Linked DNA regions of Homo sapiens: region 2 is linked to region 1. The links come from fine-mapping of genetic effects on gene expression. A gene starts in region 1. The other region holds a variant in brackets. All regions are shown on one strand. Distances are from middle to middle. Region 1 holds the start of PDE4D (phosphodiesterase 4D). Region 2 has its middle 240 kb from the start of PART1.

Region 1 (8,000 bases):
CGATATAAACTTCACGTTGGTTTCATGTATTTCTTGATGCTGTCAACAGGCCCAGGTTCTGCACACATTTATTTAAGGTGGGCTCACCACCTTTGATGAGGCAGGAGACTTGGGTTTCAGTCTTAGCTCTAGCACTCACAGTCTATGTGATACTGAACAAATTGCTCGCATCTTCTGGGGCTCAGCATTCTTGTCTATCAAATAGAGATAATACCATCTCATCTCAGTGTTGTTGTAGGATTCAAATAAGTTAATAAATGTAAAATTTCTTTGATAATTTAAAAGCATTGTTGCTGTTCTCTTTAAAATAAAAAAGTATTGTTGCTGTTCTCTTTAAAGAATGAAACTAATATCCATGTCCTCCTTAAAGATGTATTTATTTGCAAAAGCAACTCTATTAAGGAAAAACATGACATGCAATGTGTGAGCATGTGGGGAATATGCAAGTATTGTAAAGAATTTTAAGTCTAAGGATCCTTAAATAGAATGACAATGATATATCAGGTGAGCCACAGTGGCAGCTACATATAAATATTATACATCTTAGTTTGCCTGTGAACCATTCAACTAAAAATTTCAAATAGAACAATTAATCAATGTAGAAAGCATAGCAAAAAATAAATTCAAATCAATGATGCAATACCTCTATTCCAATTAGCTTATTTTTCTTTCTTCCACTCTCTCAGGCATATTCTATTTTATTAAAAAATGAAGTCAATTAAGAAACTCTACAAAATCAATCAGCCCACAGATCAAGCTAGAACTCTTGTTCTTATTTAATGTTTATTAAGGGCTCATCATCACACGGTATTTTTCTATTAATAGGTCAAATATACAAAGTATCAGGCTTGCCTTCATTCTATCATTGGGGTCCTACATAGTGTCGTGCTCAACCAAAGGGGAGAGAGAAGGACATCCACCTCTTCAAACAAAGGGTCTTAGCAGTCTTGGCTGAAAAATGAAACTTTTATATTAATTTATGGAAGTCTGCAGTCTTTGATCTGAATTGAGGTTATTAATTACAATTCTTATTCTTCCCATCCAACAGGTACAAGAACATCTCCAACAAGGTACCTAAGGGTGTGAGCCAGGCAAAGGGCTAAGAGCATATATGCAAGCTGAAATGATGTGTACACATCAGGGTTATGATAGTTTGGCTGGATTCCCTTGTACATAGTGTATACAACAGAGAGACATGCTCACACACACACACACACACAAAACTCAAACACACATTTGAACACCATTATGATTTTCTGATCAGTCCAACCTACTGTCAATCAGAGTTGGACAAACAATCCCAGCCCTAGATTTTCCTGTTTCCACACCCAGACCTGATTTACAATTTATAACTGCCCATTGTTCAGACTTGTGGCTTGGAGGTGCAGTACATCGATGCCTGTCCACATCTAAGGTTAGATGACGACCCCTCTACTTTACTATTAGATGTGCCAAGGATCAGCAGCTCCTGAAATCTTTTTCCTGTGCCTGTGTGGGGGAGGGGATTCACGGCGTGGAAGGCCTGGGACAGGGAAGAAAGGAGCTGTCCCTGGGTTATCAGGAAAGGGACCAAACGTGGGCCCCACATCCACCTCCACGCCTGAGTTAAGAATCTGGAGCTGACTCCTCAGAATGGCTGTAATTGGTCCTTTACTCATTTCCTTGGAGAAGCAGCGGTCAACTTCTACTAAAACTCCCGGTTGATAGGCGGCTTCCCTGCCCTGTCTTCCGGAGCACTTACGTTAAGGGGAAATCACTATAATCAAATCTCTACGTCTTGCCTGCTGCTAAAACAAGGCGCTTTCTTCCTGGGATTTTGCAGGGACGACTGATACACACACGGTCTCCCTACACACAAGCTCGCACACACCGACACAGTGTAACTCCCACAGCGTCCTCGCTCCTTCTCCCTCCCTCACCCCCTTGTCTCTCTCAAGGATTGCTGAACATTTTGCTCCAAACTCTCCAAGTCACCCACGTGTTCTCCCCTTTTGCTATTCAATTTACTTCTCCACCTGACGAAGAGAAATGCGAGTTGTTCTTAGGCTTTTAGCTGCAATCCTGGGACCAGGCTTTCTCACTCCCCCCTCCTCCCCAGTCAGAGCAGCCCCACCGACCCTCTTCCCAATAGGGTGAGTGGACAGATGCTGGGTGCTTTCGCTGGTCAAATCCCGCAAAACCTTCACCTTCTCTTCTTCTCCACCCAGAGCAAACTGATTTTGCCTGTTTAGTCTCACTAGCCAGGGTGGTATGGAAGTGGGTGGGGAGAGGGCTGGTGCGTGGCACAGATAACTGGGAAGCGCGCGCACCACACACACACACACACACACACACACACACACACACACACACGGCCCCAGTTAACATTTATGCAGTACTTTTGGGGGGTCTCTTACACACACCTGAATAGCATACTCTCAATAAAGGATAGGCACACCCCTGTTTGTCCTCCCCCAATTTCCAGACTAGCATTTTACCCTGGGTCTAGAATTGGTGGTGATAAGCCGACTTAGATGGAGTATTTGAGAAAAGGGGAGGTGACCCTTTGCCTGAATGGGGGAGGGGGCGCTCTCCACTCACCGCCTGAGTCCCTGGAACGAGGAGGGCCAGGACATCCTGGATTTCTTCAGGCCGGGCCGGTGGCCGGTCTCCACCGCGTAGGAGGTGCGGTCCATGGCGCGACAGTACAGGTAGCGCTCGGTGTCCGAGTAGCCGCGATGCCGGACGCGGCCGGTGGCCCCGCTCGAGGCGTAGCGGCCGCGGGCAGCCCCGGGCGGCGGCGGGGGCGGCGGCAGGGGGGGCGGCGGCGGCGGCTGTAGCGGACACTGGGGCTGGGGCTGGGGCGAGGGTGGCGGCGGCGGGGGCAGGTGGTGATGGGGATGCAGGAGGCGGAACTGGGGCTGCCGGAGCGGGTACTGGTGGTGCTGCTCGTGCCTCCAGAGATGCTTGGGGGCTTTGAGCGTGGCCCCGCCGGCGCTGTCGCTGCCCTCTCCGCTGCCCGCCCGGGCCGGCGCGCTGCTGCCCTCTGCCTCCATCCTGGCTCGCGGCTCCGCGACCTGCTGCCCAGCCCGGGTTCACCGCGCTGGCCCGAGCGCCTTCCTGATGCTGCTGCTGCTGCTGCCGCCGCCGCCGCTTCTGCAGCCCAGCAGAGGCTGGTGCTTAGCTTCTCACTTGAAGGCGCCAGAGCCTCAGGGCTACCGAGAGGGGGCCCTGCCAGCGGGAGGGGTCACAGAACGCGGCAGGGCTCCTTCCACCGAGGCTATGGCAGAGACACGCTCCCGGGCTCCCCAAGTCACCAAGACTAGGGTGCGCGGTGCCCGGTTTCGCCAGAGGTTGGTCCTTCTTCCTCCCTTTCTTCTTCCCTTCCTTTGGGCGCCGGCGGCGAGAGCAGGGATTGTCAGCAACTCGGGCTGCAGAAGCAGCAGCAACGGCGGCGGCGGCAGTGGTAGCCGCCTCCAGGGCACCGGAACCCTGATCCCGGAGCTGCTGAAAAGTTGGACAGCTCCAGGCTGGCACGCCCGAGCTGTGACTTTCACCAAAACCACTCCAGCCAGTCAGGAGTCAGACCTGTCCTCTTGATCCTTCCCCTCGCCGTGCCCGCGCCTCCCTCCTCCACACTGCTCCCCACTGCCCCGGAGCCTTCCTCTTCACCTCCGCTTGCCTCAGTGCTCTTAGAGAAATGGAGTTTGGCGATTCCTGGCTGGTTCTCAGAGCTTGTTGACGATGAGCCCCATGCTGGTGCTTCCAAAGATAAGGAATGTGACCAGGCAAAGTTGCCTGGAATATTGTCTATGCGCGTCGCTGAAAAATTGGATCTGGGTGAAGATCCAATAGTAAGATTAATTCAGTCTCTTTCCCTGACATAGGATAAAACATTGTGTGGCTCTTTCCCACAGCAGGGAGAATGCCCAATGTTTCCTCTTGAAGATCTTCCTCCAACTTGGCCTCGGGAGTGGTCCTCGCTGGAAATCAAGGCGAGTCGTCCTTAGTTGCAGAGCCATGGCTGAGCCCGCTGGCCAGAGTTAAGGTTAAGGCACCTTTTCAATTACAAACCTCTGATTATCTTCGGTAGTCTCTATCTTCAGTGCCTGCCTGCAATTTGCCTTTCTGCCACTTCCAGCAGAACACAGCTCTATTACTAAAGTGTTTTAAAAACATGTTGTATCAATATTCACAGAAATTAGAGTCCTATGAGGCACTAGAATCCAAATTCAACTTTTGTCTTCCTTTAATTAGCATTTTCCTGCAGTGTCAAATGTTTTTTAAAGAAGCCAAGAGGATTTCAGGGCAATATATAGACACTTTTTTCCCTGTACCTTTTTTATTTGACCATATTACTTAAAGATGAAATGCAATTTGCTTACTGTTAAAATAATTCTAGAATTTTTCTTTGTGGAAGTTACCACGTACCATCCATTATTTGAACGATAATATATTTAGGACTCACAACAACTTGTTGGCTGTGTAATTATTCTATTCTTCCCACACACTCAGTCTTAACATATTTTCATATGTACATTTCAAGCATATCATGTAATGGATGCTAGAGTACCAGAATCAGGAACCATGTCTCAAACTCTCTAGACTGCTGAAAATTCAACACTCTCCACACAGTCTAGATGCCACTGGGAAAATAATGCCAATGAAAATAAGTGCTCACTTTGTTTATCAGCAAGAACAGTCCACGAAATGTGCAAGTGGCAGGAGAAGGCCTTCATCATCTCTTCATGCTATTTATTTATTTATGGTTGGAAATATACCTTTCCTCCATCAGTTTAATATGAGCCCTCTGCTCATATGTGGACTATACACAAAATCTGAGAAAGGTTGTGTCTTAAGAGAAACAAGGCAATCTCCTAAGCACCACTCTCCACTGTGTAGGATTAAACCATACTTTACAAAGGCACTCTTTTTGCCCCTTTTGCAGACACAAGTGTGACTGGTGGCAGTGGTCAAAGTATTTACCATGCCTAGGAGGGCACTAAGCCAGTATTTTCCCAAACACAAAAGGAGAGAAATGGAAGTGTTCTGCAGTATAGACTGCCTTTTTCTTTTAATTCATTGCATTATTAACATCCAAAACCATTTTAAAGAAGTACACAAATTTCTTCTTTCCCCTGAAATGCTTGCCACCTTTCGCCTCAATATAACTGTGGCAAAATACCTCTATCCGAAACTCTTATTCTAATTTCTCATACACTAACAGTACAAGTGACTTATAATTTTTTTCCAGATTAAATTGGAATAATTCAAATCCAACCTGATTTTCACCACCAATTTGCTCCTTCCTTTTTACTCATGAAAACTTTATCTTTTATATATTTCCCACTGATTTTTAAAAATTCTTTGTTTTGTTTTTACTATGTAATTGCAAGTCAGGAACATTTTAAAATGTAAGAAAATCATTTAATATGTTTCCAACTTGTAGAGTTTTTAATTTAACTTATAATTCCAAAATGTTATTGATAGTAATAGTTTCTTGTGTGATCTTTGAGGTTACAGCTTGAGTTCCAATCTACCACTTCCTACCCATGTTACTTTAGCTAAATTATTTACCATCCCTGTCTCCCATATGCAAAGTAGTACTAATATTACCTACTTCACAGAATTTTGCAATTATTTAATGAAATAATACTTAGCACAATGCCTTATATGCAATGAATGTTTAATAAAGGTAGCAATTTTTATTATTCCTGCCAGGCTGGGAAGTATCCTAAATATCATGTTAATCAGCAGTTCCCAGTCTTGGCTGTACCTAGGGAATATCACCTGGGGGAGCTTGAAAAAAAATGTCTGATGTTGAACCTAGAGCAGTGATTCCAAACTTTGATGTTATCAGAATCACCAGGAGAGCTAATCCAGCACACAAAGACCCAGGCTCCATGAAGCAGGATAGGGCTTGAGGCTTTATACTTTTACCAAATTTGTGAGAAGATGCTGCTTCAGTGTAAAGTTTGATCATCACTACCCTGCCTAGACAAATAAAATCAGTATTTCTAGGGGAGGATCAAGGCATCGGCATTTTAAAAAACTCTTCATGTGATTTCATACATCAGCAACTACTGATCCAGACTTACTCTCTCATTAAATGGTTGCAAAAACACTGTAGATACTATTAGTTGACTCGCCCTTGTGTCTCAAATACTTCTAGGGAAGTCCAGCTTATAAGCAAAGTTCTCATGAAAATATGCACTTTATGTATTACTCTAGTTGCCTCTATGCTAAAAGAAAATCTTATACTGCTGAATATTGAGCACTCCCAGCCTTCCATTTAAAAACTCTTCTCATTAATCTAGGTATTTCCTACTTTTAATTAAAACAACAAAAATGTAAAATATTCCATCTACCCATTGGTTTTCCCTGCTTATATGTTAAATAAATTATCCATTCTTTTTCCCACTAGTTGACCATAGATTTTGGAGTTTTATGGGCACAGTCTGAGAGAGATTTTTGTGAAGCATTGGGTTAATGTGGGACATCCTGGAAAGCTATCACTACTTACCATTAGCACATCTATATAAAAAGTAAAAATCAGGTAAATGATCAGTATCTTTTTCCTGAACAAACTTAAATAAGCAGTTAGTTGGTGTCATTACCATGCATTATGTCATTACCACCCCCACCCTTTTCTGCAAATGCATTTCAAATCTGTCCAAAAGATACAATCAATCACTCAATGTGCTGCTGGGCAATTAACAAGGGAGAACATTCTTGTCAATAATGATGGAGAGTTCTGGCAGAAGTGATGTCAATTAACAGCTAGCAGAGAGCAAGCACCATTTCTATCCAGAACACAGAGTGAGATGGCAAGTGGCAGTAACTAAGGGTCCATTTCTATCTTGGCAATGGGAGGAGGATTTTTTTTTTTACTTTTTTTATTATACTTTAAGTTATGGGGTCCATGTGCTCAATGTGCAGGTTTGTTACATAGGTATACATGTACCATGTTGGTTTGCTGCACCCATTAACTTGTCATTTACATTAGGTATTTCTCCTAATGCTATCCCTCCTCCAGCATCCCACCCCCCGACAGGCCCCAGTGTGTAATGTTCCCCTCCCTGTGTCCACGTGTTCTCGTTGCTCAAGTCAATGGGAGGAAGATTTAAAGGAGACTTTCACTTTGCATACATTCTATGTATACTTGAGCACATGAGTGCTACTTCATTTGTAAAGATGGTCATCTTGATGCCCAACAGTCAGCTTAAAATCGGAAATTTTCATCATCATATGTGTTACAAAAGGCTAAACTCCTGTCTAATTACATATCCAAAGGCATTGAAAGTCTCAGATTTCACTTAGGTCTTTAATGTTGAGTAGAAACAGGTTCTTAGGATATTTCCTTGAGATATATGAAAGGCTTTTAAATTTGTAAAAACCTATACATATACAAGATAATATTGTCAGTATTGCCAGTACAAGTACTAGTATTAAAGTCTCTATCATATTGTTTCCAACGCAGTATATTAGGCTGCTTTTCAGTAATTTTTGTCTAATATGAAATAAACAGAAATATGCAATTAATATGAAACTAAGAAATGCTGTACTTGAATATCCTTGTCTTTGACTAGCACACTAATGCAAATTTAGCAGCACACTAATTTCCAACTAGTTGGAGGCTCAGTATCACAAAATCAATTTTGTAACTTTCTAATGATACCATTCCACTTGTCAGCTCAAGGTAAAAATATTGCTTATCTACTGTGTGCTAATTCTCAGGACGACTGTGATACTGCATTGACAAACATGCACAAAAAATTACTATCCTCAAGGAGTTTTGTGTCTTGCAGAGGAAATAAATAAATAAGCAACTATAATTTGGGAAGATGGGGGGAAGAGATATACTGATGCGGATATGTAGTGTCTGCTGGAAGAACATTCAACCCTTACAGCTCAGTGAGTCCTCACCAAAGGGAGAGTGGCATCTAATCTGAGGCCAAGACCTCAAGTACACATTGAAATTAGCTATTTTCAGTATGTGTGAATACATATGTGTGACCATG
Region 2 (11,725 bases), 350 kb after region 1:
ACATAACACAATGGAGCTCCAATATGTCTGTCAGCAGACTTTTCAGTGAAACCTTAAAGACCAGGAGAGAGTGACATGACACATTTACAGGGCATAAAGAAAAAACTTTTACCCTAGAATAGTATATCTGGTGCTAATATCCTTCAAACATACATTGCCTATAATAAACACACTTCACCTATAAACACACACAGACTGAAACTAAAAGGGTGGAAAAAGATATTCCATGCCAATGGAAACAAAAAGAGCAGGAGTAGCTATACTTAGACAAAATAGACTTCAACACAAAAACTGTAAGAAAAGAAAAAGAAGGTCATTATATAATGATAAAAGGTTCAATTCAGGAAGAGGGTATAACAATTATAAATAGGTGTAACCAATATTGGAGCACCCAGATATAAAAAGCAAATATTATTAGAGATAAAGAAACAGACCTCAGGAAAATAACAGCTGGAGAGTTCAACAGCCCACTTTCGTCATAGGACAGATCTCCCATATAGAAAATCAACAAAGAAACATCAGACTTAATATGCACTATAGACCAAATGATCCCGATAGATATTTACAGGACATTTCATCCAATGGCTGCAGAATACACAGAATACACATTCTTTTCCTCAGCACATGGATCATTCTCAAGGACAGACCACATGTTAGGTCACAAAACAAGTTTTAAAACATTCAAAAAATTTGAAATAATATCAACTATCTCCTCCAACCACAATGGAAGAAAACTAGAAATTAAAACAAGAGGAATTTTGGAAACTAAACAGACACATAGAAATTAAACAATATGCTCCTGAATGACCAACGGGTCATGAAGAAATTAAGAGGGAAATTATAAAATTTCTTGAAACAAATGATAATGGAAACACAACATACCAAAACCTATGGGATACAGCAAAAGCAGTACTAAAAGGGAAACTTATAGTTTTAAGTGCCCACATCAAAAAAGAATTAAAACTTCAAATAAAAAAACCCAATAGTGTGTCTTAAAGAACTAGGAAAGGAAAGCAAGAGCAAACCAAACCCAAAACTAGTAGAAGAAAAAATAATAAAGTTCAGAGCAGAAATAAATGAAATTGAAACAAGGAAAATACAAAAGATCCATTAAAAAGTTTGCTTCTTGAAAAGACAAAATAGATTAACCTTTAGCCAGATTAAGAAAAAAGAGAGAAGACACAAATAAATAAAATAGAGATGAAAAGGGAGACATTACAACTGAGACTGTAGAAATTCAAAGGATCGTTAGTGGCTACTATGAGCAACTAAATCCCAGTAAATTAAAAAATCTGGAATAAATGAACAAATTCCTAGACACATACAACCTACAATGGCTGAACCAGGAACAAATCCAAACCCTGAACAGACCAATAATAAGCAACAAGATCAAAACTATAATAAAGAAATCTCGCAGTAAAGAAAGGCTGTGTACCTGATGGCTTCACTGCTGAATTCTACCAGGCATTTAAAGAAGAACTAATAACAATGTTACTATTTTGAAAAATAGAGGAGGAAATACTTCCAAACTCATTCTACGATGCCAGTATTACCCTGATACCAAAACCAGACAAAGACACATCAAGAAAAGAAAACTGCAGGCCAATATCACTGATGAATATTGATACAAAAATCCTCAACAAAATACTAACAAACCAAATTCAACAACACATTAAAAATATAATTCCTCATGACCAAGTGGGGTTTATCCCAGGGAAGCAAGGATAGTTCAACATGTGCAACTCAATCAATGTGATAGATCATATCAACAGAATGAAGAACAAAAACCATTTCAATTGATGCTGAAAAAGCATTTGATAAAATTTCACATCCCTTTATGGTAAAAATCCTCAAAAACCTATGTATAGAAGGAACATACCTCAACACAATAAAGCCATATACAAAAGACATATACCTAGTATCACACTAAAGGAAGAAACACTGAAAGCCTTTTCTCTAAGATCAGGAACATGATAAGGAAGCCCATTTTTACCACTGTTACTCAGCATGGTACTGAAAGTCCTAGCTAGATCAGTAAGACAAGAGAAAAAAACACAGGGTATCCGAATTAGAAAGGAAGGAGTCAAATTACCCTTGTTTGCAGATGATATGATCTCATATTTGGAAAAACCTAAAGACTCTCTCAAAAAAATATTAGAACTGGTAAGCAAATTCAGTAAATTTACAGGATACAAAATCAATATAGAAAAATTAGTAGCATTTCTAAATGCCAAGAGTGAACAATCTGAAAAAGAAATCAAGAAAGTAGTACCATTTATGATAGCTACAAATTAAATAAAATACCTAGAAATTAACCAAAAAAGTGAAAGATTTCTACAATGAAAACTATAAAACACTGGTGCAAGAAATTGAAGAGGACACAAAAAGATGGAACGATATCCCATGTTCATGGACTGGAAGAATGAATATTGTTAAAATGTCCATACTATCCAAAGCAATCTACAGATTCAATGCACTCCCTATCAAAATACTGATGACATTCTTTACAGAAATAGAAAAAAAATCCTAAAATTTATATGGAATCACAAAATGCCCAGAATAGCCAAATCTATCCTAATCAAAAGGAACAAAACTGGAGGAATCACATTACCTGACTTCCAAATTATACTATAGAGCTATAGTAACAAAAACAGCATGGTATTGGCATAAAGGCAGACACATAGACCAGTGGAATAGAATACAGAACCTAGAAATAAATCCGTACATCTACAGGGAACTCATTTTCAACAACAATGCCAAGAACATACATTAGGGAAAGGATGATTTCTTCTATAAATGGTGCTGGAAAAACTGGATATCCATATGCAAAAGAGTGAAACCCAATCCCTATCTCTCACCATATACAAAACCAAAATGGATGAAAGACTTAAATCTAAGACCTCAAACTATGAAACTACTGAAAGAAAACATTGGGGAAACTCTCCAGGACACTGGACTGGGCAAAAATTTCTTGAGTAATGCTCCACAAGCACAGGCAACCAAAACAGAAGTGGACAAATGAGATCACATCAAGTTAAAAAGCTTCTGCACAGTAAAGGAAACAGTCAACAAAGCAAAGAGAAAACCCACAGAATGGGAGAAAATATTTGCAAACTATCCATCTGATAAGGGATTAATAACCAGAACATATAAGGAGCACAAACAACACTATTAAATCTAATAATCTAATTTAAAAATGGGTGAAAGAGTTGAGTAAAAAATTCTCAAAAGAAGACATACAAATGGAAAACAGATATATGAAAAGGTGCTCAACATCATTGAGAAATGCATATCAAAACTACAATGAGATATCATCTCACTCTCATTAAAATGGCTTTTATCCAAAAGACAGGCAACAACAAATGCTGGCGAGGATGTGAAGAAAATGGAACCCTTGTATGCTGTTGGTGGGAATGTAAATTAGTACAACCACTGTGGAGAACAGTTTGGAGGTTCCTCAAAAAATTAAAAATAGCACTACCATATGACCCAGCAATCCCACTCCTAGGTATATACCCAAAAGAAAGGAAATCAGTATATCAAAGAGATATCTACACTCCCGTGTTTATTGTAGCACTAGTCACAATAGCCAGGAATTGGTAGCAATCCATTAGCAGATTAATGGATAAAGAAAACGGGTTACATATACAAAATGGAGTATTATTAAACCATTAAAAAGAATGAGATTCTGTTATTTACAACAGTGTGGATGGAACTAGAGGTCATTGTGTTAAGTTAAATAAGCCAGACACAGAAAGACAAACTTTGCATGTTTTCACTTATTTGTGGGAGCTAAAAATTAAAACAATTGAACTCATGGAGATAGATGGTAAAGGGATGGTTACCATAGGCTTGTAAGGGTAGTGGAGGAGGGAGGGAAGTGGGGATGGTTAATGAGTACAAAAAAAATAGAAAGAATGAATAAGACCTAAGGTTTGCTAGCCCAACAGGGTGACTATAGTCAAAAATAATTCAATTGTACAGTTTTAAATAACTAAAAGAGTATAATTGGATTGTTTGTAACACAAAAAATAAATGCTTGAGGTGACAGACACCCCATTTACACCCCATGTGATTATGATACATTGCATGCCTGTACCCCATGCCTGTACAAAATATCTCATGTACCCCATAAATATATACATCTACTATGTAGCCAAAAAAATTAAAAGTTAATTTTTTTTAATTTGTACCTTTTTTCATTTTCTTATATAGGCATTTAAAGCTATAACTTTCTAACTATAACTTTCATTGCTTCTCATACAATATTTAATGGATGAATTTAATTAATATTAACATTCAGTTTTAAATATTTTCTAATTTTCATTATTTTTTTGCTTGACTCATGAGTTGTTTAGACGTGTGTTGATTTAATTTCAAATCCATGTGGGATTCTTTTTGTTGTCTTTTAATTTAAATTATTAATTTAATTGCATTATAGTCAGATACTGCCTCTTCCCAAATCTTCCTGTGCTCTCCTTCTAGAAGGCCTATGAAACATATATTGAATCTTATGCTCTCCAACATGTCTCTTAACTTCTTTTTCATATCTTCTATCATTTTCTTTTCAGTGCCTTCTGGTTGATTTCTTCAAATTATATTACAGTCTACTAATTTTCTCTCCAGCTATATCTAATTTGTTTAACCTATGATAAATTATTAATTTCAATTACTTTAGTTTTCACCTTTATAAAGTGTGTTCTTTTTTTAACCTTATTTTTTCTTATATTTATAATTCATTTATGTCTCTATCATTTTCAATATTCATTTTTCATAGTCTATGTGATAGTTCCATCACTTTTAGGTCTTATTCTAATCCTGCTCTTTGTGTTTGCTAACTCTCACTTGTGGGGGATTTTGTTCTTATGTTTTATAGTTTGAGGTTGTGAGTTAATCTTTAGAAGATATTTATGTTTAGGAATCTTGTGAAACTTGGTTGAATGGTATCTTTCTCCTAAGAAGTTTGTAACAGATTCTGCCAGGTGCTTTAGAAGTATCAGTAATCTGGGCTCTCTGTAGTTAATTTTTCAAGTTGTGATTTTTCCATACTACACAAGTAGTACAAATTCAATTCCCAAACCTAAATGAGGTACAAATCCATAGAGATGTGTTTTTGAAGGAGACATTCTTTTTCTAAGACACAGCTTCCTTGTCTCTTCTGTTCTGATGATTTTTTTTCAGTCCTTTCCATTCCAAGGTCACAACTTTGTACTGAAGATCTCTGTTCCAACCCACAGAACCTCAATTTTCCATTTCATATCTCAAGCCCTTTGTTAGTGAGACTAATAATACTGTCCCAAAGGCAGCCACAGTATCAATTCAAGTGTTTATCCCTGGAGTTTTCAATTCAACCTTTACTTCTGACCCATAGTAATGATTTTATTTCCTTTCAAGATTAGACATGCAGTATTTCTAAGCATCCGTAGCAGGGATGATAGTAAGATTATTAGCCATGTTTCTAGAACTGTTAGTAAAAAGTAACTTATTTTCTCTAGTAAAAATCAACTTACAGCACAATTGGCAAGCTGAATCCTTGTAATTTACCAATTATGAAACTTTTTCAGTTCACAATTATATTATCCAAAGCTTGTTTGATCCCACTTGGTCCCAGTTTCAGAAAACCACATGGAAAAAAATATATAATAATTATAGGTGCATACATAGCCCCTAGCTACAACTAGAAACATTACACTGAACTTTACATGGATCCAAATAAATCCTTTAATTTTCTGGATTCCCTCTGAAGCCCATCCCATCACCTTTTTCTAGAGTCCTCTAGTGCTTCCTCTCTCTCCTCTCCCTCTCTCTCACACACACACACAAGACAGAGACAGAGAAAGGGAGAGAGATCATTTTTCATATAAGTGTTCACTGCTTACTGTCAACAAGTTATATGGCTTTTCTTCTTCCTTTCCATTAATTCAATACAACTTGTCTAAGTTCCTGCTGTGCTCTAGACATTGGAGATGTTGCCAAAAACAAAACAAAACCTTTGACCCACAGGGTTTCAATCATAGTATAGAAGAAATACAAATAATAAACAAATTAATAAATATATTTTAGTTTGAACCAAATGAAATGGCCAATATTCAGCTGTTCTTGATCCACCCAAAAGCAATTTCATATGGTTCAACTTGATAGAATATGACAGGTGGTGCTACGTGCTGTGAAGAAGATAGGGTAAGTGGAGAGAAAGTCATGGGTGCATGTGAGTGTGCTATTTTAGATAGCATGGCCACAGAACCTCTCTTTTTAAGTGCTATTTGAACAGATGATAATGGAGTGAGAAAGTGTGTAATACGGATATCTGGGGGAAGAATATTCTAATCAGAAATGAAGGTGGAAAGGCCCTGAGGAGGGATGGCATATAAAAGAGCAGCAAGGAAACAGAGGGACCTGAAGGGAGCGAGTGACAGTAAGAGTGGTGCAAGATAAGGACAGAGAAGGTCAGGGCCAGGCCCAAGAATGCCATGTCAGCCATGGCAAGACATTTGATCTCACTCCTCATGAGTTGGGAAGCTGTTGGCAGGTTTGGGCAGAGGAGAGGCAAAATCAGACTTGTATTTTCAAGGATGTGGAGGCCAGCCTCCAAGGAGCAAGATGAACAGAAGGGGCTTAGGTAGGAGATGACTGCTTTCATGCAAGAGTGAGACCATGGTAACAGACTCAGGTGGTAGCAAAGGAAATAGGACAGACTGGACCTTCACAATTCTTTCATGACCTCTCTTATCTTTCTTTTTAAAAAGTATATTTGTCTTATCAATTTCTTATTCCCAAACAAGTATATTTCCAAGCTTCCACTTCTTGCCCTTGGTTGGTATTGGTGTCAAAATCATTTTGCCTGCCTGCTTCGATAGCCTGCTTTCCAACAGGAAACTTCTAAATCTCTTTACATTCAGTGC[T/C]CCAAAAATATACATTTGCACTTCCCATAGCCTGACACATCTGCATCATCCCTTTTGTTCCTAATCACTCTCAGAACAACAGCAGCATACCTGATTGAGGAGCAGCTGGCATTCACTGCGCAAAGAGCACCATCAAAAATTGAGCATGTGGCTCCAAGAGCCACCACTGTTTCCTTCTGTTTCTTGCCAAAGACTGTAACTTGTGGGTAGGCTGGGCCTGAGTGATAGCAGGAAATGGCCCACTGCCATGCAAAGTGGCTCCTCTGAAAAAACTTTTAACCATATCCCTGCAGCTGGACCCCTTCCTCTGAAGTTTCTAGATATTGCAACTCCCCAAAGAGGAAGTTGTCTAAGGGAGGTACAATGCTTTAGGGAGAAACTGACCACAGCTTAATGGCTTGTGAATGCAACCACTGCAACTTCTGGGCCCATTTCCCTCTCATGCCCACACAGGGCTGGGTGTGTTCTATTAAACATTTAGGTAAAAGGAATAAGTAACTAGCTCAGCAATGTCAGCATCATGTCACCATGGCATGACAGAAACTCAGTTTTCTGACTCTTAGTGAAATGGATCATTCAAGAGTAAAGCATTAAAATGTTTATAAAATACAGTTGGTCCAAGAGGACAAGTTGTGTCAAAATCATTTTCCAAGACACCTCATGTTTTAAAAAATCCTAACATGTAGCCTGCATGCAATATGCAAACAGGCTGCTAAGGAGAGGACATGACATTAAAATGTCAGTAGAATTACTGCTCAGCTGTAAGAACTCACACACTTTAGATTTAACAGCAGTGAGTTTACATTGGGTCACAAGAAATAGGATTTAAATGAATATTCCAAACCTATTTTCTGAAAATGCATTTTGCAAAGATACAGGTAGGCATACCTACTTCTGAAAAAAAATTCATTTGCAATAGAAAATGGGATGAGAAAACAGAAATAAAATGTATTCATCACCCTTGTCACTCCTCTATTTTAAATAAAGCAGAAACCACACATAACATTCCAGGATATTAAGCTAGGTATGAAATGATGTTCAGACTACTAAGGCTAAAGATTACAGCCATAATTCAATCTGATATTAAATGCATTTATGATGCCATATAATGTGGGAGACATTTAAAATGACTACCAAAATTTCTACTAATATGACCTTTTCTTGAATTTTATTGTTAAAAATCCTTTTCTGCCAAAATGTCAAGGTTTCTCACAGTGCTTCTACATACACTGTAACCCCAGTAATAGAAAATGTATATTTTCTGTAGACACTGGGGCTATCATCAGACAAATTTATTCTGCTGAAACTGGAGTCAACATTAAAAGAGTTTTTTGCAGCATAGGTATTTTTTCACTTATAAGTTATTACTCATTTTTCCTAATACTGTGCAGATAATATAACAACAATATTGAAGGTTTTTTTTAATATTTGAAAATTCATTGCACATAAAAGCATGCTATGCTATTGTTCCTGTTTTAGGTCCCCAGTCCCTGATCAAAGATGATATACATCTCTAGAGGCAGCTAGGAGGTGTCTCTAAGCTGGTAATAGTCGGGGTTGGATTTGTCTCAAAGCAGCAAAAACTTGTAAAGATGGTTCTGCATCCCTAAGCCTTCTCTATCTGATAACTTTGATTATTTTCAAGTATAATCATGTGCCATATAATGACATTTAGGTCAACAATGGACCACATACTACAGTGGTCCCATTAGATTATAACGAAGCTGAAAAATTCCTATAGCCTAGTTATTAATATACCATAGGCATAGTAATGTCATAATGGAAAGCAGTACTTATATGTTTGTAGCAATGTTGGCATAAAAAACCTACTGTGCTGTCATTCATATAAATTAGAGCACACACAATTATGTGTACTACATAATACATGATAACAATAACAAATAATGGTTACTAATTTATGTGTTTACTATACTTTTTATCATTACTTTAGAGTGTGGTCCTTCTACTTATTAAAAAAATAGTTAACTGTAAAACAGCCTCAGGTAGGCATATCAAGAGGTATTCCATAAGAAGGCATGGTCATCAGAGACGATGGCAGCTCCTTGCATGTTATTGCCCCTGAAAATCTTCAGTAAGACAGGGTATGAAGGTGAAAGACAGTGATATTGTTGATACTGACTCTATGTAGGCCTAGACTAATATGTGTATTTGTATCTTAGTTGTTAAGAAAAAAGTTCAAAAAATAAAAGAGATAACTAGACATTTTTTAATAAGAAGCTTATATAATAAGGATACAGAGAAAGGAAAGAGAAAGGAAATATTTTTGTACAGCTATATGGTGCTTTACGTTTTAAGTAGTGTTATTACAGGAGTCAAAATTGTTAAAGATAAAAATTAGCTATTAATTTTTTATTGAAGAAAGAAATTTTCTTAACTTTTAAGTTTAGGGGTACATGTGCAGGTTTGTTATATAAGTAGACTCATGTCATGGGGGTTTGGTGTACAGATTATTTCATCACCAGGCATTAAGCCTGGTACCTGCTGGTTATTTTCCTGATCCTCTCCCCCTTCCCACTGTCCATCTTCTAGTCGGCCCCAGTGTTTGTTGTTCTCCTCTATGAGTCCATGTGTTCTCATCATTTAGCTCCCACTTGTAAGTGAGAACATGCAGTATTTGGTTTTCCGTTTCTGCATTAGTTTGTTAAGGATAATGGCTTCCAGCTCCATCTATATTCCCGCAAAGGACATGATCTCATTCTTTTGTATGGCTGCATAGTATTCCATGGTGTATATGTACCACTTTTTATTTATCCAATCTACTATTATCGATGGGCATTTAGGTTGATTCCATATCTTTGCTATTATGAATAGTGCTACAATGAACATATGACTACCTGTGTCTTTATGATATAATAGAATGATTTATATTCCTTTGGGTATATACTCAGTAATAGGATTGCTGGGCCGAATGGTAAAAAAGATATTTTTGTAAATTTAGTGTACCGTTAAGTGTACAGTGTTTATAAAGTCTATAGTAGTGTATAGTAATGTTCTGGGCCTTTATATTCATTCACCACTCACTCACTCAGAGCAGCTTCTACTCCTGCAAGCTTCATTCATGGTAAGTGTCCTATACAGAGGTCACTTTTTTTCCTCTTTTATTTTGTATTTTTACTGTGCTTTTTCTGTGTTTACATATGCTTAGATACAAAAATGCTTGCCATTGTGTTACAATTGCCCACAGTGTTCAGTGCAGTAGCAAGCTGTACAGGTTTGTAGTCTAGGAGCAATAGAATATACCATATAACCTAGGTGTATACTAAGCTATACCACCCAGGTGTATCTAAGTACACTCTACAATGTTTGCACAATGACAAAATTGCCTAATGATATATTTCTCAGATTGTATGCCTCTCATTAAGTGATGCATGACTGTATTTAGGTTAGATGGATATGTAAGCTAAAAATACATGGGGGTGGAGAATTTTGCATTAATGTACTTTTTAAACAAAGAAATATATATTTATCATTTATGGATGAAATAGTTTCTTTTTAAAAATGCCATTCCAATTGGCACAATTAATATTCAAAATTTCACAGCACACTTTTTTACTTTTTTTTTTTTTTTTGGTCAAACATTAGCTATAGACTCACTCCAGTTTATTTAGAGTCTTTCTAAATATGTTTTAAAATACCTGAAGTTCTACAAAAAGTGGGGAGCCTTTCAAATGCATGATAAACTAGGGTCAGTAGGTTTTGGAGAGTTGAAAGACATTTGAAAATATGGTAGTGGCAATGGCAGGGGTATGGGCTGATAATGAGACGGATAGAAATGAAGGATGCTACACCATTCAGGATTAAAATTCAACATTAGTTCAAGTTTTAAGACTTTTACTCCTATGGAAAGAGTGGGGAATTGGAGTAAAATCCAAGAGAGCAGGAACTGTCTAGAAGAAAATTAGCCTGCCCAATCTCTTTGGCTTGTTTCCTCCTCCTCATGGATCCCTCTCTATTGATAAATTTTAAGTAGTGCCTATACCACACATAGGCTCCATTTTCCATCCCATGCCACATCTCGAGGGAAGAGCTATAGGAATAATACACATAAACTAGAGTGGAATTTTGATTCCTACCACTTGGAACTTGACTAGAATGTTGAACAAACCAGATCCCATTTGGTGACTGTATACATTGGTGGAGGAAGTCAATGCTTTGAAAGGCCAATAATCACTGGACTGAAGAAACAATTTACCAGCAACGGTCACTATTAGTTATGGACAGCACAAAAAAGACCAAAGAACATCAGTACCCAAGGCCAATTTATGGAAACTAACTGAATGGCACAAAATCAACCAGAAGGAGCCCACGGTTCTGCTGACGGCAGTTGCTCTGCAGGTTTCAACCATTTAATTTTTGATCTGAGCTCCTACAGCACAGGCTCTTTGCACCTTGCCCTAGAGAATCTGAGTAAATGCGTTTTTATTTTTAGATGTTTTCTCTCTTGACATAGGGTTCCACAAATATGAAAGAGCAAGTCATCCCCCAGGCATGCTAGAAGTTGTTGTTGTCTCTTTTCTCTCCCTCTGTGGTCTCCTGCAATCACTTAAAATAATAATGTGCCAAGAAATGTTTTCCTACAGAACAGGCCACTTCTCTTGACTGGCCCTAAAATGTATGTGTGTTAAAAGGATTGAGTCTTCTTTGGAATATTAGGTTGTCCCTTTTTGATGAATTGAAAGGTGTTCCAGACTTGAGAGGCTATCTCAATTTTACAGTAAACAGCTATTTTATGAGAAAGGAAAAAAATTCCATGAGGTGTTTTTACCAAAAACGCGATTATTACCAGCCTAACAAAAGAATCC

The links. PIP is the estimated chance that this variant, and not a neighbour inherited with it, causes the effect.
Region 2: its variant is fine-mapped to the expression of PDE4D in monocytes (TOPMed, PIP 0.92).

The regions. Positions count from the first base shown.
Region 1 is chr5:59,890,588-59,898,587 of GRCh38, forward strand. PDE4D (phosphodiesterase 4D) reads right to left here and starts at 3,139. Exons shown (of 15, transcript NM_001104631.2): 1 at 2,581-3,139. The coding sequence starts at 3,035.
Region 2 is chr5:60,241,924-60,253,648 of GRCh38, forward strand. It overlaps a transcript of PDE4D not described here. Among named protein-coding and RNA genes, the nearest start is that of PART1, 240 kb to the right of the region's middle. The variant T/C (reference allele first, on the strand shown) is at 6,903.